7 linked regions of the Homo sapiens genome follow. The protein of the gene in region 3 purifies or fractionates together with the protein of the main gene of each other region. This does not show direct contact. Each region holds a gene or a part of one and is shown on either strand. Other genes may lie near its edges. The genes, in order: TMEM171, GTF3A, EPN1, FLT4, MAP4, EPS15L1 and SMAD5.

Region 1 (3,973 bases), on a different chromosome or scaffold from region 3:
TTCTCCTAGACTGGATATGGGAGTTACATAAACTAATGCAAGAAAAGCCAGACCCTAGGACACAGAAATCATAGTAGCAGCAGCAGTAGTTTAAGTTACTAGACACTGATTTTAGGGTTTGGGGAAGTTTATCATTAGAAGAAAAAAAATACAAACATTCACGATGAGAATTCTACAGAGGTCCAGCCCTAGCCTGCCCTTTCTCCATGCAGGGCCGTTCCCACATGCACCTCCCTGGATCCCCCCATCACGACCCCATATGAAGCTGTAAAGCCAATTCTGTCCTTGTCAGCCACCTCTTTCCCTCTCCCATCAGATAACCTGTCCCCCTGCTTTTGTGGGAAAAGAATCTCTACACAACTTCATTCCCTCCAGGCCCCAGAGAAAAGGCACCCTGGCCCCTGCTCCAAGGCCCACTGCCTGCTCTGTCAAGGCAGGGTGGAGAGGGAGTTCCTTAAACACGAATAACAAGGTAAGGTGGTGCTATCCCCAGCAATGAGCACCAGTCTCTCTGTGCCTGCTGCTCACTGCATGCAAAAATGCACATATCTCATTGTCTTACCTGCTTCACCCTGTGACAATGTGAAGCAATTCTTCCTTCCCTTCCTAAACCCTGGTTTCCCATTCTAGAAGGTACCACCAGAGCCTTCTCCAGCCCTGCTCCCTGAGCACACCATTTCTGGGGTATGCACAAGCCCCTCCTGGGGGTCTCCCACTAGTCCCTGACTCTTTGCCCTTCTGGTTCTCCAACAACCTCTGCAGCTCCATCTCCATCACCTCCTCTCTCTCCCAAAACCCAGCCCTTCCCAGTCTGCCTCCAAGGCCCTCATCTCACTGTACCGCCACCATCAGCCGCCCACCATCCTTTCCCCACCGAAACCAAGCTCATCACTCACGTCTTCTCAGTTGGGGACCTCTGAGCTTCCCTGTCACTCACCCTGGAACTCATCATCTTCGCCTCTTCCTCAATGTCATTCTCCATCCAGACCCCCTCCCCCAGGCTCCTGGCACCTCAGGCCCGTCCCACTAGAGCCTGCCTCGCTGCATTCTGTGTGGGGTGGGTATTGACCTGATATTCTCTGCGGCCCAGGGAAGGAGCGAATATTGAAGGAGAGGCCCAGTTGTGTTGGATCGGGGCTCAGGCTGACTTTAGCCAGTCACCCAAGCACGGCCATCAGAGTACTAAAGCCCTTCTGTAACTGTTGGGGATCCCCTGAGACCCTCACACCTCTCCATGATCTAAAGCAGTGAAGCCTAGCATAGCAGGGGCCTCCTGGCCCAGTCCTGGTGCTCAGTCTGATTGGTGGGTCATTAAACATTCTTTTTTTTCCCCCTGAGATAGAGTCTCTCTCTGTTGCCCAGGCTGGAGTGCAGTGGCGCGATCTCGGCTTGGAGCAGAAGAATAGGGTGTGGAGGCAGGGAATCTACGGCCGTTTCACGCTGACTTCCTAGAACTAAATTGAAAGGAAAACCCTAACTTTCCACCCCTGAGTAACAAAAGGACCAAAGACTACTCCCTTTGCAAACACCCACCTTTCGGCAGATGGGAAATTGAAAGTGCCTCTAATTGGTTGCTTTTTGCAACCAATCAGACATTTGCATAGGACAACAACTTTGTAACTTCACTTCAGCCTCTGATTGGCTGCTTTCTGCAACCAATCAGACGGATTGTGGGCCACCACTTCATTTACATGAGGTGAACACAAAGTGGCCAATGGGAAACCTCTAGGGGTGATTTGGACCCAAGAAGATTCTGGAACTGGGCCCTTGAGCAGCTGTTCAGGCTTGCTCCCACCCTGTGGAGTGTACTTCCATTTTCAATAAAATTTTGCTTTTGTTGCTTCATTCTTTCCTTGCTTCGTTTGTGCATTTTGTCCAGTTCTTTGTTCAAAACACAAAGTACGTGGACACCCTCCGCCGGTAACAGGCTCACTGCAACCTCTGTCTCTTGCGTTCAATCGATCCTCATGCCTCAGCCTCCCGAGTAGCTAGGATTACAGGTGCCTACCACCATCCCCAGCTAATTCTTCTATTTTTCGTAGAGACAGGGTTTTGCCACGTTGGCCAGGCTGGTCTCAAACTCCTAAGCTCAAGTGATCCACTCACCTTGGCCTCTCAAAATGCTGGGATTACAGGTGTGAGCCACAGCACCCGGCAAGGGTTGTTAAACATTCTGAGTATCACCCCTGTTAGGAGCACATAAAGATAGATGCCTGGAGTAGGCTTCATATTAACCCAGCATGATCACTTTATCATTTTTAACTTATGTGCTGCCCAAATTTCGGCAAAGGTACTGTTAATATCAAGACACTAATTCTGACATAACATCAGCAAAAAAGATACTCACACTTGAATGCCTCCTGGTGAACCACACAGCCTTAATACTAGTGTGGCCTGAATTCAGGCCTCTCTTGAAGTTCAAATTGAAATTCTTACCCATAGTTGAAAATACTGTAATATGAAGGGGGGTTTTCATTCGGAAGCAGACTGTTAGTTCCAGGACTCTCAGCGACCGCAGAAGCTGAAGATTCAGGAAAGTAAGGTGGTGGAGGGGGTGGAAATATTATTACCGAGTCACCTAAGGCAAAACAATATTTAGTTGACAACAGGTGGGTAATAAATGGAAGCAAATTAGCAAAAGCAAAATTAATTATATATTTGGCCCATCTATATAAAAGGTCAACACACCTGCTGCTAACTCCAAAATTTAAAAGTAAGCCCATTAAATGTATAGAGATAGAAAAGTAGACTAGGTTACCAGGGGCTAGGAGGGGTTCGGGAGGAGGAAGGGAGTGGGAATTGCTGTTTGGTGAGTACAGAGTTGCTGTTGGGGATAATGGAAGAGTTCCAGAAATTGATGATGATAATGGTTGAACAACATTGTGACTGTATTCAATGCCACTAAACCATTTAAAAACGGTTTGGCTGGGTGCAGTGGCTCACACCTATAATCCCACCACTTCGGGAAGCTGAGGAGGAAGGATCGCTTGAGCCCAGGAGTTGGAGACCAGCCTGGGCAACACAGCGCTATCTCATCTCAAAAAAATTAAAAGAAAAAATTTAGCCAGATGTGGGAGTACACGCCTGCAGTCCCAGCTACTCGGAAGGCTGAGATAGGAGGACTGCTTGAGCCCAGGAGTTCTAGGCTGCAGTGAACTATGATTGTACCACTGCACTCCAGCCTGGGTGACAGAGCAAGACCCTGTCTTAAAAAAAAAAAAAAAGCCAGGCGTGGTGGCTCACGCCTGTAATCCCAGCATTTTGGAAGGCCGAAGCGGGTGGATCACTTGAGGTCAGGAGTTCAAGACCAGCCTGGCCAACACGGCGAAACCCTGTCTCTACTAAAAATACAAAGAAAAAACAATCAGGCAGGCGTGGTGGCAGGCGCCTGTAATCCCAGCTATTCGGGAGGCTGAGGCAGGAGAATTGCTTGAACCCGGGAGGCAGAGGTTGTGGTGAGCCAGGATCATGCCACTGCACTCCAGCCTGGGTGACAGAGTGAGATTCTGTTTCAAAACAAAACAAAACGAAACAAAAAGCAGTTTAAATTGTTTATGCTTTATATATATATATATATATATATTTTTTTTTTTTTTTTACCACAAATTTTTTAAAAGTAGGCCTACATTTCAGAATCCAGAGTGCTGACAATTATGGTATGAAAGCAGGTCTATATTTTGTAGCAAGTCTAAGACCAAGCCTTTTTGTGAATTGTTTGCTAACAAGCTCCTTTCCCTCCTCTGGGGTGTCTACTGCTGAAAAAGCTTTTCTCGTTTTCAGCCTACAACTTTAATTCACAAGTTAGCTGTTGGCTAAAGTGCCTTGTTCCTCAAATGTAGTTTCAGCCCCTGAGCAAATGACAGTAAGCCATATTACAGCCCCTAACTGTTATTTACCAAAATTTCACCCATACAGATGAAGGTTGAACCCAAAGAAGTTTGGTTTTTGCATTTCTGTGGCTACTGTTCACTCC
Region 2 (3,973 bases), on a different chromosome or scaffold from region 3:
GTGACTTCTTTTCCTTTGACCAGACTTCAGATTATACTACGAGGCTACAGTTACCAAAACAGGGTGGCACTGGTTTAAAAATAGGCACTTAGACCAATGGAACAAAACAGAAATAAAGCCAAATACTTACAGCCACCCGATCTTCAACAAAGCATATAAAAACGTAAACTGGGGAAAGGACTCCCTATTCAATAAATGGTGCTGGAAAAACTGGATCCCTATCTCTCACCTTATACAAAAATCAACTCAAATTAAGTTTATGACCTGAAACTAAAAATTCAAAATGAAAACATTGGAAAAACTTCTGGACATCAGCCTAGGCAAAGAATTCTTACTAAGGCCCTGAAAGCAAATGCAACAAAAATAGAAATAAATAAATGGGACCTAATTAAACTAAAAAGCTTCTGCACAGCAAAAGAAATAATCAGCAGAGTAAACAGACAACCCAGAGAGTGGGAGAAAATACTGGCACATTATGCATCCAATAAAGAATGTATATCCAGGATCTACAGGGAACTCAGATCAGCAAGAAAAAAACAATCCATCGAAAAGTGGGCAAAGGATATGAACAGACATTTCTCAGAAGATATACAAATGGCCAAAAAACATGAAACAATGCTCAACACCACCCTTGCATTTCCAATCTTATTCACACCTAGAATCCAGGCATTTTCAGCCACATGAAGTACCTACTTGAATAGAGGTTCATTGGTATGCTGGCACTGATGGATTTTCAGCTGCTGATGTTTCTTAAAGGTCTTCTTACAGTCTTCAAAACTGCACTGTTAAATTGTAAAGGCTCGTTAGTCTTATGGAAAGTCAAAACAAAATGAACAGTTCGTAACAGAATCCTCAAGATAAAACAATTTTGGAGACTGTATAAAATTTCTGCTTTCACCCATTTTGTTACTGTAAAATTCTGCTTTATCTCAAAAAGGTTTGAAGAATCATATAACATTTGAAAAAGCAAAACTGTTTCAGTTGGAATAGTCTCCCAATACACTAATTTGCACAATGTCTGCTTCCAAATTAAAACCTTTATCATTATGATGGCATTAAGTAAATTCAGACATTTGGCAGACAAAATTTGGTTGACGAAAACTTTATTTTTCACTTTTATTTTTTAGAGACAGGGTCTCTGTTACCCCAAAATTTTTTGTTTTGTTTTCTGTTTTTGTTTTTTTTTTTCAGAGACAGCATTTCACTATGTTTCCCAGGCTGGTCTCAAATTCCTGGCCTCAAGCTACGATTATAGGCTTGAGCCACCGCACCTGGCTGAAAATGTCAGAAACATAGGCAGTAAGTGTAAAAATACTCAAAAAATTTAAGCATATAAAATCATACTTACTATATATTGTTTTTGTTGATTTTCATGTTTGCGTTCAAAATGTTTCTTCAAGTTTGATTTTGTGTTGAATTTTTGATCACAGCCATTGGCTGCACAACTGTAAGAAGTTATATAAACCAAAATATTAATAAACCAAGGGAGAAGAAGTTTTAAGACACATATATCTTCCTACTTTATAGAAGCTAATTCTTCCAAAGAATAGTAATACTATAAAATAGTCTTAGCGAATTCCAGAGTGTTAAGCCATACCACATAGACTCTCAACCTGATGACTATCATGTAACAAAATGCTTTTTCATATTAGGCTTCTGAAATTATACACACTACATCAGTCATCTTTTATACACACTGGGCAGATGGGAAGGTGAAATACACTAGTCCCAAAAGCCTACACTAGGCCTAAATCATGCTTAAGACAAATTATTCTCAGCTTAGAATCTGACAACCTTAATGCTGCTTGAGATGTCATTATGAACTGGATTTCCAGAAAGGCCTCCATAAAACTTGTCTTGGCTTATCATTAGAGGTAAAACAGATACTTAGAGCAGAACCATAACCATTATGTTCTCTGGCTTACCAAGCCATTCTGGTTCCCCTTATCTTGGCATCTTGGCTTTGAATGATCTAAATCCTCTGCAAAGCCTTTTCCTTTTTTTTTTTTTTTTTTCCCAAAAGAAAATTTGTGCCTCTTGTGATGAGCCTTCGTAAGCTTGAGGGATGAAGCAGGACTTCCTTTCCCAGGCTCAATCTTAGCCATCACTCACTGATAACCCTGAGGCAGGCACTGTCCCATTCCTAGGGCCAAGCAGAGACAAACAAGCCAGCAGTGACCATGGGAGGCACAGCACAGAGGCCCACAAATGGGAGGGGCGCTGTGGCAGAGACCCTAGAAGCCCCCCTAACTGCAGGGACAGAATGCTGAGTGTTAGCTGGGCAGGTGGCCGACAGAAAGTGCACTCTCCGGCCTCCCCTGCAATTAGGGCGGCTCATGGCTGAGTCCAGCCCATCCTGCTCAACCCCCACAAAGTCTCTAAATAAGGGGGCATGCCTCTTATGCCCTTTCCTCCTTCCTGCCAGTGGCATGCTTATGTGACAGATGGGCCCAAACAGGCATCACAGTGAGGTTAAAGCCCAAGATGAGGATGGCAGAGACCAGTCAGAAGAGGCTCCAGAGCTCCTGCCTCTGTATTTCTGTATTTCAGTCGCACAAGACAAAGAGCCCATCTTGTTTAAGCATCTCTTGTGCTGGGGTTCCTGCCATTCTTCACTCTAAACCTGACACAGGCATCTAACCCAACCGGGTATGGGATAGGAGGACAGGCCAGGAAGAGTCCTGACAAGACCCAAGTGGGCGTGAGAGACCCCGGCACACTTGGAGAGGGGGCTGGTTAGTTAGCACAGCTGGACCACAGCTTCATGCCTGCAAGTCAAGCAAATGGGGCAAGATAAGCAGAAAAGGGCTAAATCACGCAGGTCATTGTAGGACACACTTGAAACCTGGATTTCACATGTAGGCCGTGCTTGAAAGCACTGCACAGCTTTAAGGGAAGCACACGGGAGGGCACTGGGGGAGAGGGCTGGCCTGCAAACTGTCATTCCAGCCAGAGGAAGGGACCGAGATAAGACAGTGGCTGCTGGATCTGATGGGTCAGTTACAGGATCTGGCAACCCACCTGTTGCAAGGGATGGGAGAAAGAATGGAGAGTCCAGGGAGCTGCCTTATCTTTGCTATGGGTCACTGGACAGACAGCGAGGCCACCTCTCCAGACAAGAACATGAGAGAAGATCAAACAGAAAAGTGAGCTCAGTTTGACTGTGACAAATTTGGGCCATGTGGAATTTTTTATTTATTTATTTCTTTAATAGAGATGGACCTGACCATCTTGCCCAGCCTGAACTCCTGGCCTCAAAGCAATCCTCCCACCTCAGCCTCTCAAAGTGCTGGGATTACAGGCATGAGCCACCACACCCAGCCTACCACATGGAATTTAAGAAGACACAGAGATAGCCAAGTAGCACTGTCCAGCGAGCAGTGGGAAACGGGGAACTACAGCTAAAGAGGGGCAGGGTCTGGGTTAGATCATGAGCTGGAAGAGTCATGTCCAGTAGTTCCTGGTTGCATGGCATTTCCTACCATCCCCACCCCCTACTTGGCCAGGATCCCCCACTGCTCCCAAAACAGATGACATTTTTAGTTTTGTTATGTAACTTTTAAGACTTCTTTACAAATAGGAACAAATACAAATATAGTTGCTTCCTGCCTACCCAACACCCACTACTCACCCCTCCCCCTACCCCCTAGCTTTTTTACACACATAAAAGTAGCCTAAAGAGGACTCTTCTGCACCTTGGTTTTTCAATTAAAGTGCCCTGGTGATTTTCTCATGGCTTTGCAGAGAGCATCTGCATTCATTTTCCTGGCTGTAGGGTATCCCATTGTGTTGATATACTTTAGCTTGTCCCCACCCATGAGCATTTTATGTTAGCTCAGCCTCCTGGGTAGCTAGGATTACAGGCACAAACCACCATCCCTGACTAATTTTTGTATTTTTGTACATACGGGGTTTCACCATGTTGCCCAGGTTTGTCTCAAACTCCTGGGTTCAAGTGATCTGCCCATCTCCG
Region 3 (3,973 bases):
ACACTCAAATTCCAACTGGGCTTCTCTGCCAGGCTCTGCCCCTGGGACCCCAGCTGGGGTGAGGGGCTTCCCCGCAGCCTCTGCCAGACCTGCCCAGCCCTCCCTCAGCTCCCACGGCTCGGCCACCCCTCCCCTGTCCAGCTGGGTGTCAGGCCCCTTCTCCACCTGCACCTCCCAGCTCCACCCACCGCCCTCCCCAGATGCCTACGTCACACACGCTCTGCCTTGGCCAGAGCCTCTCTGCCCCTCGGCTGAGCTGCCATCCCCTCCCCACAGCACACCCCCCATGTCCTCCAAGGCACAATCTCACACACCCTGTGCTGGGCTCTCATCTGACCCCCGCCCTTGCCCCCTCCCCTGCACCCAGGACGCCCCACCACTGCCCGGCGCCACTGGCTCGATCTGTCCCTGTCCAAGGGCACAGTCAACCAAAGACAGGTGCACACAGGCGTAGGGGCTGCATGCAAGTGGGCCACGCACTCACCATCGGAACTTCCCCATGGATCAGGCGTGGGCCCCTCCCCAGCTGCAGGGGCTGGGGTCCCACCCCAAGGGTCAACTGAGGGTCCTGCAGGGGCAGCAGGCCTCCAGGGGTCCCCAGAGGCCGGCGTGGGGGCTGGACCTCCCCAGGGATCAGCAGCTGGAGGGACAGGGGGGCCGCCCCAGGGGTCCGAGGTGGGGGCAGCCGTGGGGACGGCAGCAGCCATGGGTGCTGGGCCCCCCCAGGGGTCTGTGGTCGGGGCAGGAGCTGGGGCCGTGAAGACGTCAGCAAGGTCCATGAGGGACGACTGTGGGGGAGAGAGAAGAGAAGGAGCATGAAGAAGTGGTGGGAAGCCTGGGACAGGGACCAAGCTGGGGCCCGTGGCGGGGGAGGCGGCCAGGCCCTGGGTGTCCAGACAGCAGCCATCCATAAGGGGTGAGAGGGAGGCAGGCCCCAAACACACCACCTGGCCTCCCTCCTCATCCGTCATGGGGTCGGCCCACCCCTGCCCACCTACCCCACCCGAGGGTACCACCAGGGAGCCCCAACACAGCCCCACTCCTGCCCCACATCCATTCTCCACACTGCAGCAGGGCAGCCCCTTAACTCCACCTGCTCCCAGGTCCTTGCCCGGCCCTGACTGAGGATGGAGGCCAAGCCCTCCCCTCGCTCGACCCGAAGCAGCTCGATCCTCCCTCTGCCCACCGTGCCTTCTCCAGCCAGACTGGCCAGCCCCTGCTCCATGCCTTCCCCTGGGAAGCCCCCCATGAACCCACTCAGGTCAACCTGAGCACCCCTCACGATGCCCCCTACGTTGCCCCGCCGTCACCCCGCAGTCATCGCGCTGCAGGCCTTCCCACGCCCATTGCCCCACTGTCACCCCGCAGTCATCGCACTGCAGGTCTTCCCATGCCGCACGCACACGCATGCATGGTCCTGTGTTCTGGAAGTGGGCACACGACGGGCCCAGCTAACCAGAGCCCGTCTCAGAACGTGCAGATGCCCCCAACATACTCATGCACACATCTCCAGTCAGCACCCGTGAGGCAAAGGCCCCGGCGGGGATGGGAAGGGGAGAAGAGCTGAGTCCAGGGCAGGGCAGGAGAAGAGATGGGTGAGATCTGGTGCTCCCCCAGCAGGGCAGCCCTTACTCGGGTCACTGGGCTGTGGTGGACACTGATAGAGACCCCCTGGCCGAGGCCAACCTAAAGAGGCTTTCCGTCTACCAAGAAAGTCCCACTGTGCCTGATCACTTATGGCCACAAGCTGTCTGCCGCCTCCCATGGAGAGGAGGCCTTGTCCCCACCCCTCAAACTTGGGCTGGCCTCAGGACCTGCTGAGACCAATAGCAGTGCACAGGCTGACGAGGCAACTCCAACCCAGCCCGACGAGCTTGTCCTGGGGGGCGGCAGCAGCAGCAGCTACTGTGCTATGAGGACACTCAGGACAGACTAGTAACCAGGGAGAGGCCAGGGGAGGAGGCTGGAGGGCAAGGCCAGTGCGGACACCCCGGGCCCAGAGGCATGAGTGACCTCAGCCATGACACGAAACAACCAGCCAGCGGGCCCGTCACAGGGAAGTACTGAAGCGTGACCTGGAAGCACAAGGTTGTGGGAGGGTTTGCTACTCAGCTGCAGAGCATGGGGACGCCACAGAAACAGTGTTCGCGAGGGCGGGACCATGCCTCCTCGCTCACCAACAGGCCCTGGGTGTGCAGCACACGGCCTGGCACCAAGGAGGTGCCCGACAAAGTGTGACAGATGGGGCGAGCCCTGCACCCTCCTCCCTGTGGCCATGCCAGGCTGTTGGCCTATTCTGGGCCTCCCCATTCAGCTGTGGCGGCCGGTGGTGGCCCTCACGGTGCTCAGCCCGAAGGGGGATGGCCAGCGCTGACCACAGGAGGTGGCCGCAGGGCAGCCTGGTCAGTCACCGGCCTCAGCCCAGCAGGGAGGGAGAGGCACAGAGAGGCCGACCAAGCCTGGAAACCCGGTGCCCAGCTCCAGGACCTTGTGTTTCAGTCTCTGCTCCAGGGACCTGGCCACGCAGGAATGAGCGATGGGACGGACGGACACCTGCAGGGGCCAGGGAGGGCAGAACAAGCCCCGCTCACCTCCTCCTTGCCCCCAGTCTCCCTCTTGCTCTCCTCGATTGCCATCTGCAGCCGCAGGTCATCCCCGCGACGGATCCGCTCCTCCTGTTGGGGCACGGGCACGACCAGGGAGACATGAGAACGTGAGCCACGGGCAGATGCCACCTCAGCCTGGAAGCCCCAGCAACCCCTCCCACCCCAACGAAAGCGGCTGAAGGATTCGATGGGATGCGGACAATGTATGAAATGGGGATGGGGCACCTGGGTCAAAGGTCAGGCGGGACAGGGGATAAGGGGAGTGGGGTGCTGTGCTGGCGCACCCGGGGAGGACGGGCACCCGCCTCGGTGGTATCTCCTGCGTTGGGGGGAGGAAGGGACCCTGGTCACCCGAGCAACCTTGGCACAGCTGTGCTGGCCACCACCCAGGCTCTGTCTGACTTGTGGTCCTACATCCTACGGCTGAAGGTACTGAGGTTTCAACACGCGTGAGCCTGTGGGCTTCGGGCCCAGCAGGATGGTGGGGGGTGACTTAGGAAGGGGCGACGGGGCTGGTCTGAGGGGAGCCCCTGGCAGGGGCAGGGACAGGGAGGCTGCTCTGACCTTATCATGCTCTTCTCGGCTCAAACTAAGGGCCAGCTGGAGCTGGGCGTCGTCCTCGGGGCCGCAGGACGGGGGCTGGGGGAGAGAGAGTGTGAGGGGCATGACGGGAGGGGCCAGAGGCAGAGTCAGAGGCAGAGCCAGGGTCAGATAGAGCCGAAGAAAGAGAGGGCTGGGGGTCCCTGAACCAGTGAGGGACAGGCAGAGAGTGACACGCAGAGGGACGGCGGGGTGAGGATGAGGCAGGACTGGGGAGGAGACGAGTGACAGCATGTGGAGCAGCGACAGTGAGGGCCAGGCCCACGCCTGGCTGGGAGGGAGCCTGAAGTGAGGCGTGGAGGCGGGTGGCGGACAGACAGCCCCAGCTGCACGCCCAGTACCTGGTCGGCCTCCTCCTTGCTCATGGCCAGGGCCAGCTGGAGCTGCAGCTCCTCCTCCCCGCTGCTCTGCGGCCACGCCTGCTCCGCCTCGGGAGGGGGGCCTGAGCCCACAGCTGCTGATGAGGCTGGAGGGCGGGTGAGAAACGCGTGAGACCCAGACCAGGGAACGAGAGACAGGAAACCCCATAGCCTAGACAGACGGGGGCTTCTGTGTCCAACCCCACCCCCCAAGTCCCCCACCCTACAACCTCTGCAGGCCAAGACTAGGACTGAGAGGCGGAGACCAGACGCCAGGTGCTCAGAGGAGGAAGGGTGGGGATGCAGGCAGCCCCACCCACGGGAGGGGCCAGGCATCAGGGAAGGACCAGAGCAAAAGTCAGTCTGATAAGCAGGTGGGGAACCCCAGCAACCTCTGAGCCCTGCCAC
Region 4 (4,570 bases), on a different chromosome or scaffold from region 3:
CTACCTCCCATCCACTCCTCCCAGACTCCAGCCTCACCGGACCACCCACTTGGCCACATTCACCATCTGGACTTGCCTGTCTCTGGGGCTTCATGGGGTTCTTTGCTCTGCTTGGAATTCCCTGTCCTGGAGTTCTGCAGACCCCACCAGGAAGCCCTTAGCTGGAAGTGACACTGCCTTCCTGTGCAGCTTACAGCCACCAGCTGGGCCTCACCAGGGCCCCTGAACACTTTCATCCCTGGGCAATACACGTCTGATGGCATGTCTGTGTCCCTGCAAGGCACAGGAAACCCCTGTGCGATGGGGCCAGGTCCAAGTCCTCCCTGGGCCACCCCGAACAGGCACTATGCTGGGGTCTTGCATAGAACTGCAGGCTCCTTCCCTGGGTCGGGGTGCCACTGCTGGGGGTTACAGTGAAGAATTCGCCAGACAGACCACACATCACACCTCGTACCCTGTCTGGGCCCAGCCATGTGGGCCCTATGCTCTGGGAGGGCTCAGGACTCCTTCAGCCACACTGGCTCTGTGCCATAGGCCTGGTGGATGAGGGAACAGCACCTGCATTCGAGTCCTCAGAGCCCTGAGCTGGAGCAGAAGGTCCCCAGGCCCAAGTAAAGTGGGCCTGATCCCCACATCCTGCCTGCAGTGACTTGCATCCCTGGGCCACACATCTGTCCACATCTGGGCCTTTGTGACCCAGGTCACAGCAAGGGCAAACGTCCTGAGACCAGGCCACTCCAGATGCCCAGCAGACCCTGCTCCTGCATGTCCCTGAGCTGGTAGCCACAGTGCAGAGGTGCCAATGGCCTCTCTCTAGACTAAGCCCCAAGAGACATCTGTGACCTACCCTCTCCACTGGGGCAAGACTGTGGAACTGCAGCAGGCATCTGGGTCTTGGAGTCCAGCCCAAGCACACACAACCCACACAACCTCGGGGCTTGCCAGCTTGTGCCATGGCTATGCTTGTGCCATGGCTATGCTTGTGCCATGGCTATGCTTGGGGAAACTGAGGTGCAGGGAGGGGAAAGGAGGGGGCCCAGGTCACACAGAAAGGACTTTACGGCAGAGGCAGGACAAGAGTCTGGTTCTATGATCAATAGCACACTTTTAAGGGGTCAGCTTCAGGATGCTCAGGCTTCTGGCCTGCTCCCACCGGACCAGCTGCCCTGACACCCGACTGCAGCTCCCACCGGACCAGCTGCCCTGACACCCGACTGCAGCTGAGGGCTTGTGCTTCCGCCATGGCATCCCCCATCAAGCTGGGGGCTCCCGGGGTCTTCAGCCTAGCAGGGGGTACAGCAAGGTGCAGGGCTCACGGAGGGATGACCTCTGTCTTCATTGCCATCTCCCCACCAGCCAAACCCAGGTCCAGCCCAGGACACCCCTCTCCATGGGGCGCCCAACTAATGCCCTCTCTCCTCTTCATAACTGGGTCACTAAGAGTCACTACTTACTGCAGGGAATAGCTTCCTCACCCTTCACCCCACGTCCCTCTGTGCTCCACCCGGGAGCACCAGGACACTGGCCTCTCCTGGTTCTCCTTATACCTGCAGAATGTTCCCTGGATCCCTGGAAGCCCCCTTGCCCTCTGGGCCCCTCCTCCAGGGTTCCCCTCCCGGGTCTCTCTCTTCCTCTCCAGCTACTCAGCCCAGCTCAGACACTGCGCCCAGGTGCCTGTCCCATGTCTCCTCCAGGATAAGCGTCTCCCATTCTACAGCCCTGCAGTCCAACCAAGGTCTACCAGCCACTCGACAAATACATCCTGAGCACCTGTGGGAGCCTGGTCCTGGGCTGGGTCCAGGAGGGCCAAGGGCAGCGCCCTGATCTGGCCTGCCCGACTCGGAGGCCCAGATAGATGTTCTCCTCCCTCCTCCCCTGGTTGAGCCAGACCTGCCCCCTCTCCTGTCCTCTGCCCTTCAGCCAGTGGACATACAGGTGGTGAGCAAAGGCAGGCTTTGTCAGGCTTACTTTGGGCCTCCTGGGGACCTTGGGGAAGTGACACATGTCCTTGGTCTAAGCTTCTCCATGTGTAAAATGGGTCTGACACTCCCTGTGAGAATTACAAGCATGTAAAGCCAGTATTTAATTCCTATGGCGTGCAGAAATGTTGAGGTCCCCGTCGCTGACTTCAGGGCTTCAGACACTGGAACCCCTGACCCCGCCCTTACACCCTTTGATTTCCAGGGACACCAGCTCCGTGGGGACTCCCAGCTCATCTTCTCAGCTTCCTCCCTGACATCTCCATCCACTCCCTCTGCCGCCCGCTCATCCCCCACAGTCCCTCTTTCCAACCCCTCCGCCTCCGCTTCAGGTCTGCGTCTCTCCCCGCCAGAGCCACATCCCAACACAAACCGAACCCCGCCTCTCCTGTGCAGGGGACCCTCCCGCGGGGGCCTCTGCTCCTCAGCTGGCCTTCGAGGCCCCTGTCCCCTCAAATCCGGGGACCCCTGGCCTTCCGCCCCTTCTGCGGCGCTGACAGCCCGCGATTCGCCTCCTCAAGATTCGTCTCAAGTGCCAGCGTGCACCTGCACCCGTCCGCCTCGGGCGCGCGGTGGTCCCCGGCCCCTGTCCCCGCCGTCGCCGGCCACGGGGAGGGGGAAGCCCGCCTCGAGCGCCCTCTGGGGGACCGACCGCGAGCGGAGGCGCTGGGCGTCGGGAAGTGCGCACCCAAGTCCGGGGCCCGGCCGGGATGGATCTCCGGCGCGCGTGGGTCGGGACGGCGCGGCGCGGGGACCCCGCGGGGAAGCGAGTAAGGGCGCGAAGGATCCGGGCTCAGCGCGCAGCCCGGCAGGGCCCGGCTCCGAGGACGCGGAGCCACCGACGGAGACGCGGATTCAGGGGCCGGGAGAGCTACCCCTGCGCCGAGGCGCGGCCCGGCCGCCCTGGCCCTGACCCGGCTGCGGTCCCCGCCCGCCCCTTCCTCATCCCGAGGTCCCGCGCCCCAAGCGCCGTGCTCCCCTCAGGCGTCCGCGCACCAGGGCCACCGTGTCCCCCGCCCGTACCCGGCGGAGCGGTCTCAGCGCCCGCCCCAGGTGCGCGGTACCCCCTCCCCGGCCAGCCCCACGCTCGGGCGGGTGGCCCGTTCGCCGCGCTCACCGTCCAGGAGTCCCAGGCAGAGCCACAGTCGCAGGCACAGCGCGGCGCCCCGCTGCATCTCCGGCCGCTGCGCGTGGGTCCGACCCGAGCGGCCGCGGCTCGGGGCTGAAAGTGTCCGCGCGGGCGCCGGCTGGCCTGGGGCGGGGCGGGGCGGGGCGGGGGCCGGAGGCGGGCCCGGGATTCAGGCCGCTCCCCGCGCCCCCCTCCCCCCGTCCCTCCCAGCCCGCCGCGGGGCGTCCGGTGCACCCGAGCAGTGCGCGCTCCGCACCACAGGGTCCGGGCCCCCTCCTGGGCGGCTCCGGGCGCGGGGACGCGGGTAACGCAGACGGTCTCGCGATGCGCTCCGGAGGTGATGGAGCCTGGTGGGCAAAGGGGAGCAAAATGCGGCACGCGCTCTTTTCCGTCCTTTCTTTCCATCGGTAAAATCTAGACTAAACAAGAAAGCAATCCTTGTAAAAATAGTATGTTACATCTTTGAAAATAGTGGCACCAGCCGGCGTAACATAGGGAGACCCAGTCTCAAAAATAAACAAGCAAATAAATAAAATAATACGCCGAGCTTGGTTGTGCGCGCCTGTAATCCCAGCTTCTCGGGGGGGCTGAGGCAGGAGAATCGCTTGAACCCGGGAGAAGGAGGTTGCAGTGAGCCGAGATCGCGCCACTGCACTCCAGTCTGGGAGCCAAAAAAAAAAAAAAAAAAGCAAAAACAAAACCCGTTCAGCAGTGTTTACCTGCACAGTGTCGACGGACAGTGTCGACGGAAGCCGCACCCGTGAGCGGGACACCCGGGATGACCGACCCCCTCCCTGCAGGCCTGGCCTCCTAGCTTTAGAACTCCCCCAGATGTTTTGTTCTCAGCTCAATCAGGACCCGCCCCCACCTTTTTAATAAAGCGACACTTTGCTTTTGCTTTCTGACTTGGCAACCCTCTTACAGACTTCCGTTCTCTTTTCAGTTTGTCTCTAGAATTTTCCTGTTTAATAATGAAGCCCATGACCATGACTGTCTCAACCTCCTTCCCTGCTTTTCGTTTCATTCACATTTTCCATCCCCCCACCCCCGCCCCCCAAAGCCCTTTCATCCTCGCCAAAAAGCAAGAGTAGATTTTCAATAACCACTACCAGCTCTCTCCAATCCAGGTAAGAAGTGGCTATATTATTAAGCTGGAATCACAAATCAGTGCGGATAGTGTAGATAATTTAACAAATAAGGTTGGGGAAACTAGGTAACCAAGCGATACATGAAGTTAGGTATTTATCAATCATATATTGATTTTTTTTAGCTTTGAAAGATTATGAGATGTAACACACTTATGGAAAGTACATAATATATCAGCATATTATAAACCTGAATTTTAAAGCAACAAATACCTGTGTTTCCATTCTCCAGGCCAAGGGATGTAGAATGACATCCCCACATCCCCTCACTTCCCATCACAAACCCCTCACCAACCCCAGAAGATGCCCACTACCCT
Region 5 (3,973 bases), on a different chromosome or scaffold from region 3:
GACCCAGAACCCCTTGAATGAAGGGGAGGCCAGGTACCCTTGAGAAAGGACCCCACTACTTTACTGACAATTTATGCAGTGAATCTTTCTCCCATCCTTCCCCAAGGAGACCTCCATCCAACCTTTCACTTTGGGGACTACTGGACACTGGCTCTGGGCTGATGATGACTCCAGGGGACTTAAAACATCACTGTGGTCTTCCAGTTAAACTAGGGGCTCATGGAAGTCAGGTAATTAATGAAGTTTTAGCTTAGGTCTGACTTACAGTGGGCCCAGTGGGTCCCTGGACTCATCCTGTGGTCATTACCCCAGTGCCAGAATGCATAATTGGCATAGACATACTTAGCAGCTGGCAAAACCCCCACACTGGCTCCCTGACTGCTAGGTTGAGGGCTATCATGGTGGGAAAGGCCAAATAGAAGCCCTTAGAGTTGCCTCTACCTAAAAAAATAGTAAATCAAAAACAATATCACATCCCTGGAAGGTATGCAGAGATCAGTGCCACCATCAAGGACTTGAAAGATGCAGAAGTGGTGATTCCCACCACATCCCCATTAACTCTCTCATTTGGCCTGTGCAGAAGACAGATGGATCCTGGAGAATGATAGTGGATTATCATAAGCTTAACCAAGTGGTGACTCCAATTGCTGCTGCTGTTACCAGATGTGGTTTCATTGCTTGAGCAAATTAACACATCTCCTGGTACCTGCTATGCAGCCACTGACTCTGCAAATGCCTTTTTCTCTATTCCTGTCCATAAGGCCCATCAGAAGCAATCTGCCTTCAGCTGGCAAGGCCAGCAATATACCTTTACTGTCCTACCTCAGGGGTATATCAACTCTCCGGCTTTGTGTCATAATCTTATTTGGAGAGATCTTGATCGCTTTTCGCTTCCGCAAGATATCACACTGGTCCATTACATTGATGACATTATGCTGACTGGATCCAGTGATCAAGAAATAGCAAACACACTGGACTTATTGGTGTGACATTTGCATGCCAGAGGATGAGAAATAAATCCGACTAAAATTCAGGGACCTTCTGTCTCAGTAAAATTTCTAGGGATCTAGTGTTGTGGGACCTGTTGAGATATTCCCTTTAAGTTAAAGGATAAGTTGTTGTGTTTGGTCTCTCCCACAACCAAGAAAGAGGCACAATGCCTAGTGGGCATATTTGGATTTTGGAAGCAACACGTTCCTCATTTGGGTGTATTACTCCGGCCCATTTACTGAGTGACCTGAAAGGCTGCCAGTTTTGAGTGGGGTCCAGAACAGGAGAAGGCTCTGCAACAGGTCCAGGCTGCTGTGCAAGCTGCTCTGCCACCTGGGCCATATGACCCAGCAGATCCAATGGTGCTTAATGTGTCAGTGGCAGATGGGGATGTTGTTTGGAGTCTTTGGCAGGCTCCCATAGGTGAATCGCAATGGAGACTTCTAGGATTTTGGAGCAAGGCCCTGCCATCTTCTACAGATAACTACTCTCCTTTTTTTTTTTTTTTGAGACGCAGTGTCACTCTGTTGCCAAACTGGAGTGCAGTGGTGCGATCTCGGCTCAATGCAACCTCCACCTCCCAGGTTCAAGCGATTCTCCTGCCTCAGCCTCCCAAGTAGCTGGGAATACAGGTGCGTGCCACCACATCCAGCTAATTTTTGTATTTTTAGTAAAGATGGGGTTTCACCATGTTGGCCAGGATGGTCTCGATCTCTTGACCTTGTGATCCGCCCACCTCAGCCTCCCAAAGTGCTGATTACAGCTAACTACTCTCCTTTTGAGAGTCAGCTCTTGGCCTGTTACTGGGCTTTAGTGGAAATTGAATGTTTGACTATGGGTCATCAAGTCACCATGCGACCTGAACTGCCCTGCCTATCATGAGCTGGGTGCTTTCAGACCCATCTAGCCATACAGTGGATTGTGCACAGCAGCATTCCATCATCAAATGGAAGTGGTATATACGTGATCGGGCTCAAGCACGTCCTGAAGGCACAAGTAAATTACATGAGGAAGTGGCTCAAATGCCCATGGCCTCCACTCCTGCCACCCTGCCTTCTCTCTCCCAGCCTGCACTGATGGCCTCATGGGGAGTTCCCTATGATCAGCTGACAGAGGAAAAGAAGATTAGGGCCTGCTTCACAGACGGTTCTGCATCATATGCAGACAACACCCGAAAGTGGAGAGCTGCAGCACTACAACCCCTTTCTAGGACATCCCTGAAGGACAACAATGAAGGGAAATCTTCCCAGTGGGCAGAACTTCGAGCAGTGCACCTGGTTGTGCACTTTGAATGGAAGGAGAAATGGCCAGATGTGTGATTATATACTCATTCATGGGCTGTAGCCAATGGTTTGGCTGGTCAGGGACTTGGAAGGAGCATGATTGGAAACTTGGTGACAAATTTGGGGAAGAGGTATGTGGATGGACCTCTCTGAGTGGTCAAAGACAAGATATTTGTATCCCATGTGAGTGCTCACCAACAAGTGACCTCAGCGGAGGAGGGGTTTAATAATCTAGTGGATAGGATGACCCATTTTGTGGACACCACTCAGCCTCTTTCCCCTGCCATCGCCCATGGCCAACAAAGTGGCCATGGTGGCAGGGATGGAAGTAATGCTTGGGCTCAGCAACATGGACTTCCACTCACCAAGGCTGACCTGGCTACGGCCACTGCTGAGTGCCTAATTTGCCAGCAGCAGAGACCGACACCAAGCCCTCAGTATGTCACCATTCCTTGGGTGATCAGCCAGCTACCTGGTGGCGGATTGATTATATTGGACCTCTTCCATCATGGAAAGGGCAGAGGATTGTCCTCACTCAAATAGACACTTACTCTGGATATGGGTTCGCCTATCCTGTATGCAATGCTTCTACCAAGACTACCATTTGTGGAATGTTTTTTTGGTTTGTTGTTGTTGTTGTTGTTGTTGTTTTGAGAAGGGGTCTCACTCTGTTGCCCAGGCTGGAGTGCAGTGGCACAATCTTGGCTCATTGCAACATCCGCCTCCCGGGTTCAAGTGATTCTCCTGCCTCCGCCTCCCAAGTAGCTAGGATTACAGGCACCCGCCACCACACCCAGCTAATTTTTGTATTTTCAGTAGAGACAGGGTTTCACCATGTTGGCCAGGCTGGTCTTGAACTCCTGACTTCAAGTGATCTGCCTGCCTCGGCCTCCCAAAGTGCTGGGATTACAGGCGTGAGCCACCGCACCCAGCTGACTCATGGAATGCCTTATCCACCATCATGGTATGCCACGCAGCATTGCCTCTGACCAAGGCACTCACTTTACAGCTAAAGAAGTGCGGCAGTAGGCTCATGCTCATGGAATTCACTGGTCTTACCATGCTCTCCATCATCCTAAAGCAGCTGGATTGACAGAACAGTGGAATGGCCTATTGAAGTCACAATTACAACGCCAACTAGGTGACAATACTTTGCAGAACTGTGGGAAAGTCCTCCAGAAGGCCGTGTATCCTCTGAATCAGCGTCCAATATAAGGTACTGTTTCTCCCATAGCCAGGATTCACAGGTCCAGGAATCGAGGGGTGGAACTGGAAGTGGCACCACTCACCATCACCCCTAGTGATCCACTAGCAAAATTTTTGCTTCCTCTCCTGCAACATTATGTTCTGCTGGCCTAGAGGTCTTAATTCCAGAGGGAAGAATGCTGCCACCAGGAGACACAACAATGATTCCATTAAACTGGAAGTTAAGATTGTCACCTGGACACTTTGGGCTCCTCCTCCCTTTAAGTCAACAGGCTCAGAGGGGGAGTTACAGTGTTGGCTAAGGTGACTGACCCAGACTATCAAGATGAAATCAGTCTACAACTTCACAACGGAAGTAAGGAAGAGTATGCATGGAATACATGAGACCCATTAGGGCATCTCTTCGTATTACCATGCCCTGTGATTACTGTCAATGCAAAACCACAACAGCCAAATCCAGGCAGGACTACAAATGATCCGGACCATTCAGGAAT
Region 6 (3,973 bases), about 39 Mb from region 3:
TTTGTTCTGGAAGCCAGGATTCAGCATGGCCACCTGTGCCAGGCTGCAAGGCCTGGTGTGAACGCGCAAAGTGGCAGCAAAAACAACAGACAGCCGCCTGCACTTGGCTGGAACCAACGTTGGCCATGAACAGATCTGGCGGGTGGGATGTTCTGCTGTCACACCAGGGGACCAGAGCCCCATACTGTAATACGTTTATTCAACCTTTACCATGGCTCCAAAACTGCCCCTCTCTGCCAGGGAGACGCCTTCGCTCAGGTTGGCCAGGTCGGTCAGGCTGGCACCATGGGCTCCATCGAGCACCTGGTCATACTGCTCCAGGCTCCTGTGGGCCTCCTGGCGGCTTTCATGCAGCTGGGAAAGTTTGCTCCTTGCCTGTGCAACAAAGACATCATCAGCATTAAGCAGGGTCAGGAAAACATGTCAGAAAAGACGCTTTTTTTTTTTAAAACACAGGGTCTCACTCTGTCACCCAGACTGGAATGTAGTGGAGTGATCATAGCTCACTGTAGCCTTGAGCTCCTGACCTCAGGAGCTCCTCCTGCCTCAGCCTCCTGAGTAGCTGGGACTACAGGTGCGTGTCACCACCTATATTTTTGGGCAACAAACCAAGACCCATCTCTGCAAAAAATACAAAAAAAATTCTGTATTTTTTGTAGAGATGGGGTCTCGCTATGTTGTCCAGTCTGGTCTTGAACTCCTGGCCTCAAGTGATCCTCTTGCCTCAGCCTCCTAAAGTGCTGGGATGACAGGTGTAAGGCACTGCACTGCGCAAAGCAACATATCTTTGCTCCTGACACCCAACTACAAACTCTAAGGGTTAGAAGAGAAAACACTGAAAGTAATCCTACAGATATTAACCATAAAGCACAAGAAAGGGTGGTAAATCTCTGAGCGGTCCATGCTTGCGATCAACTGTGGCCTATAAACTGGCTAATGGAGCACAGACAGAGACCAGTTCAATTGGTAAAAGAAGTGTGCCTGGCCACTCCGACACAGGCGAGGGCCAGTGTCACAACCACTGTGTAGACTGGATGCCCAGGGCCAGGACAGAGGCCTTCATCTACTGCCCACAGGAGAGCAGGGAAGGGCAACGGCTGCAGGCCACGAGAAGCCAGCGCCCCCCCCTGGACTGGGAAGAGGGTGGGGGCGTCCCAGGCAGCTTAGAGAATGGGGGTCCTGCATGGCGTGATGCTCCAGGGTGGCGCCTCCTGAACACACCAGTGGCTGTGGAGGATGACGTCTGTTCTCTTGCCCAAGGACAAAGAAGTCATCTCTCTGACTTTGTCCCTCTTGTTTGTGTGAGGACCAGGCTGGAAAGAACCCCAAGTTCTCTCCAAATGAGCCATTAATTAAGTGTTCCCACCCCACCCCGCCTACTCCTTGAAGATGCTGTGTGCTCAGGAAAGGAAAGTGAACTCCTCCAGGCCAATGCCAACAAACTCTGGAACATGCCCTGGGGAGTCCTTGGCCCTGCGCCTCCAGGCCAGCACCACAGCCTCCCAAAAGAGACCCTCACGTAAGTAACAAGGGTGAGAGCAAAGGAGTTCAGCAGTGGCAGCCTCGGCTCTTGGGGCTCGCTGGTCCCTGGCATGTGGCAGGGACCCGACTCCGTGAAGTACCTGGTTGATTTCGTCTTGCGTTGACTTCAGGGACTTGATGATGGTTTCCAGCTGGACTCGCCCAGCCTGAATGCTCTGCTCCAGCTGGGTTTCCTCCTGCTGCAATCGGTTCAGCTCCGACTTGGCTCGGTTCAGATCGTCTTCCTGGGACTTTAAGTCAGATTCCTGAGATTGGATTTGCGTTTTCAGTGATGAGATCTGAAATGAGATGTTAAAAGATGTTAAAGAGATTCACAGTGCAGGATGAAATGGGACTCCGAGAAAGAACTCTTAGCCCCCATCCCCGAAACAAGCTAAGCCAGGGACGCAGACACCTAACCCAGGCCCGACACCTGGCTTCCTTACAGGCCTCTTTCTACACCCAAAATAGAGACACAAATGAAAAGGCAGATGGGCTCATCCCACTGTGGCTAACGGAAGATCACTTTGGAATAATGAGGGGCATGACCAAGCACGAACAATCTGTCCATCCCCCCAGAGGCTGAACGTCATAGAGTTTTCTGAGGTTGCAGCCTCCGGGATCTGTGAGGAGCCTCAGAGACACCTGAGGAGGGGACACAGGCACCCTGGAACTCCCTGTGTTGTGGGGCACAGCCAGGTGGGGTGTGTTCAGGGCACAAGTTCGCAGGGACCAAGGCCATTCACTTATACAACCTGACTTCTAGGAGTACAGGGGGGTGGCCAGGAAGTCAAGCCACAGGTGCTTGGACACTTTTCCACGTGGTGTTTGGAGGAACTCTATTGACCCAGTAGGATGTCTAAGTGTTGTGTTCCCAGGTAACACGAGCTCAGGGGAGTCCTTGGGAAGCCCCTGCCTGTGCATAGGGCGCTGCCCCGGAGGTGGCCGGGACCCACCATCTGAGTCTCATCCTGGCACTTCTGCCGGACGTCGCTCAGCATGTCTCGGAGCTTGGCCTTCTGCTGGTCCATCTCGTCCAGGCGGTCTTGAGCATCCTGTTTCTGAGCCTCGAGCTCCTGCAAACTGCTTGTTTCCCGGTCTAGGTCATTTTGTAATTCCTAGGGAGGAGTTGCAGGGGTTTACGTGAGGATGGGAAAAATGAAGCATGTCCAAGATAACGGGGGGCAGCCTGGGCCAGAAGTCCAGGGGAAGCCTCCGAAACCACCCACTGTGACCGTGCTCAGGGCCAGCATTCCGTGCACACCCACGGCCAATGTGTGCCTCTTGGGCTGGAGGCCCAGGGCCACTGTCTCACCAGCTCCCTCAGCAGGTATTTCCCGATGGCCTAACAGAGGCCAGGTGCGAGAGAAGGGGCTGGGTCCCTGTGAGAAAAAGGCCCCAGCTCCCGGATGACATGCAGCTGTGGCTGCGGAGGGGAACATCACCCAAACGCAAATAAACGTGGACAAGTGGCACCAAGGGGGTCACAGGGAAACTACAGTCACACCTTGTGGGCAGGGAAGATGCCCACAAAAGCAGCATTTAGGATGGGGCCAACAGGTGAGCAGGTGCCAGGCAGGTGAAGAGCCAGGGACAGAGCCTGGCGGAGGGAACCACAGGGACCCCAGGGTCGGGGGGTGTCGCACTCCAGCTAGAGCAAAAGGGAATGGGTGGAGGCATCAGAGGCTGCACCCCACAGGCCACGCCAAGGAGACTGCGCTGGGCTCTGTGGTGGGGAGCCCGGTGGGATGTGTGAGTGTGGGAGGCGGGACATCATGATTCTGTTTCTGAAGCTCTCTCTGACCCCGTGGGATGGATCCAGATGGTCAGCCCGAGGCTCCAATGCCCCATGATTCCACTTCCAAGAAAAGCATCCTGGAAGCATACAGCGTGTGCAGAGGTATACAACGTCTATGACAGCAAAATCCGTAAACAATGCAGATGTCCATGAGGTGCTGGCTGGAAGGTTCCAGCACAGCCCACACTGTGGGACGCTCCTTGGCCATGGAACGGGATGGCGCCGTGTGCTTTGCCTTACAGTGGGACATGAGCACACTGCATTTGTGCGAACGGGAAGGGGAGGGTATGTGTGGTATGCATCAACCTTTCTGGAAGGCCCCCTCCAGGAGCTCATGAACAGCACCTCCGGGGATGGGGACACCCAAGAAGAGGGCAGAGGCTTCTCACCTCCTGATTTTCAACCACGCAAATGCATTATCTGTCTTTAAGATAAATAACCAAAGCTGAAATAGCACAACGGGCATTGTGACAAGCCTCCTCCCTCCAGCTGCCATGTGGAGCGTGGTGCAAGGGGCCATCAGGACGCAGGAACTGCAGGGGCCTCGGGTGGGGTCCAGGGAGAGGCAGCAGCAGCTGGGGCCTGAGTGAGGTGGTGGTCGTGAGAATGGAGAGGAGGGGTGGGTTTGCGGGGAGCCATGGCTGGGTGGTGGGG
Region 7 (4,570 bases), on a different chromosome or scaffold from region 3:
GTGGTTAGTGTACAGAGAGACAGAGAGACAGACAGACAGATACAAGGAATATAGATCGTCTAGAAGTAAAAACAGGGAAGACTGATAAACCAAGAGAATAGACACCTATATCCTCAAGCGTACTCAAGTCAGCTCTGAAATTCACCCAGATGTGTGGCTCATTGCCTAGACCAACATATACATCTGGTAATAATAAACACTGATATGTCATAAACAAAAAGAGTTTCTTTAACTCTACAAAGTACTAGTAATATTAAAATTTACATAAAGACAAAGAATATATATGAAATAGATTTTTTTAGATGGTATTTCAACTTAAGTAACTGTATTAAGAAATGAAAAACTGGTATTTTACTGCCTAGTTTTCAAAACACTAAAATCTTTAATTTGACCAAGTTACAAATCTGTTTTCAGTAGAGGGAGAAAACACACTGCCTCCGTTCAATGCAAAGGACAAAAAAGATCATCACTGCAAATCATAATGTTTGGGTTCATGATGAAAACAGGAAACAGACAGGCTGCCCAGGTATAATTATGGTTGTAATCTAATGTGCCTTCAGGTTCAGCCAAGAATTAAAACCCAGTGAAGAGGGTAAGCAGAATTTACTTGCCTCTACTTTGCTGCAGAATGCAACTTTTAATAATACTCCCAGCAACATGTTACATAACCAACAGTAAACAACAATCTGATTCAAACCTCATTAGTAACAACATTCTGCCACTGTCTCCCACTGAAATTAATAGCTGACTTTGCCAGAGGGGAAAGAAATCCAACACATTATCAATCTACCCATTTCTGTGGCGCCTACCACAGTGAACCAGACACGCAGATAATACTACCAGATCTGTACAGAACCTACGAAAATATTTTATTCTTTTTTTCCAGTTTGCTGCTCTCTTCCTCCTTTTAACTAGACCATATCATGTGGATGCCTTTAAAACCTGAGAGTAAAGTCAGTTGAGAAGGTTAATCTAACTTTTCTTGCTTATTTCAGCTATGATCTGAAAGGAATGGAAGCACAAAATGATGAATAAGGTATTTTTAACAAAGATACATGGGTAAATTAACAGCAGTAATGTAAAAAAGACTGAGGGAGCAACAATGTGGAAAGGGAAGGAAAGGAAGCTGTATAGGAACAATCACACAAATAATCATCAAAATTAAACTTTATAAATCTAAACATAGTATCTACAACCTTTATGAAGGTTAAGTTTTGTTAAATTGTCTAAGTTTTGCATTTTTACAATTTTCACTGTAGAGAAAAAAATATTAATAGTTACCAAAGGAATAAAAGACTAAAATAATTTGTTATACATCTGCAAATAGCTCCTTAAATTTGGAACACTAATTTCATAATGATATTTGGATCCATAAATGTGAAACTGTCACACTGAATGTAGGTACTGTTTTCCCCACAATGGATACTACTGCATTGGCATCTAGCAGAAATTGTAAGCTATTTGGAATGTTACTAAACCTACTGGGACTAAGGTTTTCAATCTTTTGTCTTTCAAATTAAAATTAAAAACTAATTCACTCTGGGCAATTCAGGTACTCTAAGGAAATTCAAGTACTCTAGTTTTAAATACGAATTTTCAAAAACGCAACCCAAGTACCCTTTCCTCTCAACTTCTGTGAGGCCAAGCCACGACCTCCACCTATTCAATCTTTGCTGCTAGATAACAACCCTTTTGGTAGTGCTAGGCAACAGGCATGATGTGACAAACCTAGACATCAAAACTTTTCCACAGAAAGATAAGGTAAACAAGATATACTTAGCGCCACACCCATTTAAATGCACAAGCAACCAAAATTGCTCCCTCCCCCCGCAACACCCCCCCCCCCCCCCCAAAGCTCCAGCTGGTCAGGAAACATTGTCTTTACAATCAAGATAAACATCTGGCTCAGGGTGTTCAGCCATTCCTCACCTACAGGCTTGCCTAAGCCCCATTCTCCAATGCCATCACCACCAGAACCGGAACATTCTGTTGGGAAGCCGGCAAACGTCCAAATACCCCAAGTATCCTCGCCCGAGTTCTGCAACCAAAAATCTGTTTTGGCTACTGAGCATGCTCAGACTTAAGACGGGCGCGCCACATGGGAGTTTTCAAAGCTTAGGCTCCAAACTCCACGTAGTAACAGCAGCTGAAAGGAGGAGAGGGGAAAAGGGGAGGGGAAGAGACTGGAATATTAATTTGAGCCCTGATATTGAAGTATAGGACCCGGCCAGCGGCTGAATATGGTGAAGGCAAAAAGACGCTGCTTTGGCATTCTCTTTGCAGCACAGAGAAGTTTACATGAAGTAGAAGAAATCCTTGCAGTGGTGAAAACTGACATGGCAAGTGGCAGAAACCAGGTCTAACTACCAGCTGATTGCAGTAGCCGGTCACAACTGCCCAGAGTGTAATTCCCACCGATAAGCGCGGATCCTTATCTTTGAAACACAAAGCGACGGCGGCACGGATTCATCAAGCCATTGGACAGCTTCGCAGTGCAGCAGCCCAGGCTGCCCGGCCGAGCACCGCAGTCCTATCAAGGGTGTGTATCCAGGGTGGTACATCCGATGAGTTAGGAAAGCAAACCGCTCCCCAGGACAGCGCGGGGTCAGGGGGTCCCCTCCAGGGCGTCCCAGACGCCTCCCTCCAAAGTCTGGGCGGTAACAGCGGGGCTGGGACGAGGGCCAGCCCCGGCCCCGCCTCAGGACGCCCCGGGCAGCCAGCGAGGCCTCCGCAGCCGCTGGGCCGCACCGTGTCCGCCAGCCGGGACCCCGGCAGGCCAGGACTCGGCCTACCTCCCGCCCGACAGGCCCTGGGTCGTTTCCGCTCCGTCCGCGGCCGAACGCCCCCGCCTCGGCCCGAGTCCGCCGGGGCAGAGCCTGCAGCCCCCAGTTCCCCTCGCCCGCGCGCGCCGGGGACCCTCACTCACTCGCGAGCCGGCTAGGCGCGCTCTCCCGACGCCGTCGCTGCGCTTCTCCTCGCTGCAACTTTATTAGCAGCTCGGCCGCGGGACACGCGCACGGCGCCCGCTCGCCCAGGACCCGGATGAGGGAGGGAGGGAGAGGGAGCCCGGGAGGACGCCCGCTGGGGTCGGCGCATGCGCGCCAGAGGCGGAGTGACCGCTGCGGGACCGAGGGAGGGGTGTCTTGCCCGGGCGGCTGAAAGAAGCCTCCGCGCCGGGCTCCGCGCCGGCCAACGCCGACTTCCGATCAGCTGGAGGCCTTCGCGTCGATGGCCAGGCCTGGGAATGGGAATCAGATAGCTCCCACCACCACCACAGTAGGCGCTAGAAGCTTCCACTAACCAAATCAGTATACATTGTAATAAAATTAAGTAATTGTCCTTGACACAGACAACTGGAGGTTTTCTGTCACATACAAAGTGTAAACAAAAACATCTTCAGATACGACTTAGCTACTTTTATTGATCTGTAATACAAATCTGAATGAAGAGTCTTCTTTCTGTGCAAAGTAGCTTCAAAACATGTTTCTGAGCATCTTACAGCTTCTTACTAGATGCAGCACTAAAACCCCTCCCACGGGGCAATCCTGGAACCCTTGAGGGCCTGTGGAAATGGAGCGAGTGCCCACCCTGGAGTTCCAGGAGTGGGACTGCCCATACACTGGATCGCAACCCCAGTTGTTCAAGACACATAGCCTCTCCACCTCCTTGTGGGGAGGGAGATCCCGTGGGGACCCAGCCCCTGGACAGGCGGGGCCACTGAGTTGCAGAGACACCATCCATAGGCTTATATACACCACCCCATCTCCTGGACTCTCTTTTCTAAGTAATTGGAGCTCTTCTCGATGCTTTTTCCTCCAAATTTCCAAAACCGTCAGTATTTCCTAGAATATAATATTGGTACCACATAGGGTACCCGATTTGAATAGTACTAGTAAGAAAAAGCTTTTGAATAATTTTGTTTTTATTTGAAAAGGTCAATACTGGCTCTCCAATGTTCTATTATAGGTTTTCTTTTTAAAATAAGTAAAAATCAAAATCGGGGTCATTTTGGAATGCTCTTTGACACCCTAATCCAATCCATCAGAAATTCTACTGACTCTTTCTTCAAAATTTATCCTAAATCTGACCATTTCTCACACCTCAATTGCCACCTCCATGGCCCGAGCCAGGGTCATCTCATCTGACACACAAATGGCGCAGCCACTATTTTGCTCCAGGCTCTAGAAGTTTATTTCTGTGGAGAAGAAACTAAATAAATGTCCAGAAGTCTCTGCATTAGGGGTGGCCATCTGAAATGGTGACAGAGGGCTAGTAAAGGAGTGAAGGGGAAGTGGGGGAAGAGACCAGAGAGTGAGTGTCTAGTTCCAGAGACCAAAGGGGTCACTGCTATTTCATTCCAGCCAACTGTTACCATAGGGAAATGTGGGAATAAGGACCCAGTGTTGGCAGATATTCTGATTTTTCAAGCAAAGCTGGAAATTTAGATTTTTATGTGAAAATCTCAATTATATCTGTTTAGCAACTTCTTTCTATTTTTCTCTCTCTTTGCCTGTCTCCTGCCCGCCCCCCACCCCGCTCCCTTCCTCTCACTCTGTTAGACATTCTGGAG

What was found.
Region 1: the proteins of EPN1 (region 3) and TMEM171 purify together in Homo sapiens (co-immunoprecipitation; one large-scale study listed by IntAct). This does not show direct contact.
Region 2: the proteins of EPN1 (region 3) and GTF3A purify together in Homo sapiens (affinity purification with western blotting, with the first as the bait; one study listed by BioGRID). This does not show direct contact.
Region 4: the proteins of EPN1 (region 3) and FLT4 purify together in Homo sapiens (affinity purification with western blotting, with the first as the bait; one study listed by BioGRID). This does not show direct contact.
Region 5: the proteins of EPN1 (region 3) and MAP4 purify together in Homo sapiens (affinity purification with mass spectrometry; one large-scale study listed by BioGRID and IntAct). This does not show direct contact.
Region 6: the proteins of EPN1 (region 3) and EPS15L1 purify together in Homo sapiens (affinity purification with western blotting, with the first as the bait; one study listed by BioGRID). This does not show direct contact.
Region 7: the proteins of EPN1 (region 3) and SMAD5 fractionate together in Homo sapiens (co-fractionation; one large-scale study listed by BioGRID). This does not show direct contact.

What each region holds. Positions count from the first base shown.
Region 1 is NC_000005.10:73,126,995-73,130,967, reverse strand, and holds part of TMEM171 (transmembrane protein 171), read right to left. Parts: intron 2,579-3,973; coding exon 2,437-2,578; intron 1-2,436.
Region 2 is NC_000013.11:27,427,342-27,431,314, reverse strand, and holds part of GTF3A (transcription factor IIIA), read right to left. Parts: intron 1,446-3,973; coding exon 1,349-1,445; intron 783-1,348; coding exon 694-782; intron 1-693.
Region 3 is NC_000019.10:55,688,569-55,692,541, reverse strand, and holds part of EPN1 (epsin-1), read right to left. Parts: intron 3,673-3,973; coding exon 3,548-3,672; intron 3,246-3,547; coding exon 3,171-3,245; intron 2,676-3,170; coding exon 2,592-2,675; intron 789-2,591; coding exon 485-788; intron 1-484. UniProt on the Homo sapiens protein: Binds to membranes enriched in phosphatidylinositol 4,5-bisphosphate (PtdIns(4,5)P2). Modifies membrane curvature and facilitates the formation of clathrin-coated invaginations. Regulates receptor-mediated endocytosis.
Region 4 is NC_000005.10:180,646,392-180,650,961, forward strand, and holds the start of FLT4 (vascular endothelial growth factor receptor 3 isoform 1 precursor), read right to left. Parts: upstream 3,210-4,570; 5' UTR 3,155-3,209; coding exon 3,097-3,154; intron 1-3,096. UniProt on the Homo sapiens protein: Tyrosine-protein kinase that acts as a cell-surface receptor for VEGFC and VEGFD, and plays an essential role in adult lymphangiogenesis and in the development of the vascular network and the cardiovascular system during embryonic development.
Region 5 is NC_000003.12:48,006,194-48,010,166, forward strand, and holds part of MAP4 (microtubule-associated protein 4), read right to left. Parts: intron 1-3,973. UniProt on the Homo sapiens protein: Non-neuronal microtubule-associated protein. Promotes microtubule assembly.
Region 6 is NC_000019.10:16,402,111-16,406,083, forward strand, and holds part of EPS15L1 (epidermal growth factor receptor substrate 15-like 1), read right to left. Parts: intron 2,640-3,973; coding exon 2,478-2,639; intron 1,821-2,477; coding exon 1,623-1,820; intron 376-1,622; coding exon 211-375; coding exon of another isoform or gene 196-210; exon of another isoform or gene 1-195.
Region 7 is NC_000005.10:136,131,319-136,135,888, reverse strand, and holds the start of SMAD5 (mothers against decapentaplegic homolog 5), read right to left. Parts: upstream 3,045-4,570; 5' UTR 2,927-3,044; exon of another isoform or gene 999-2,926; intron 1-998. UniProt on the Homo sapiens protein: Transcriptional regulator that plays a role in various cellular processes including embryonic development, cell differentiation, angiogenesis and tissue homeostasis.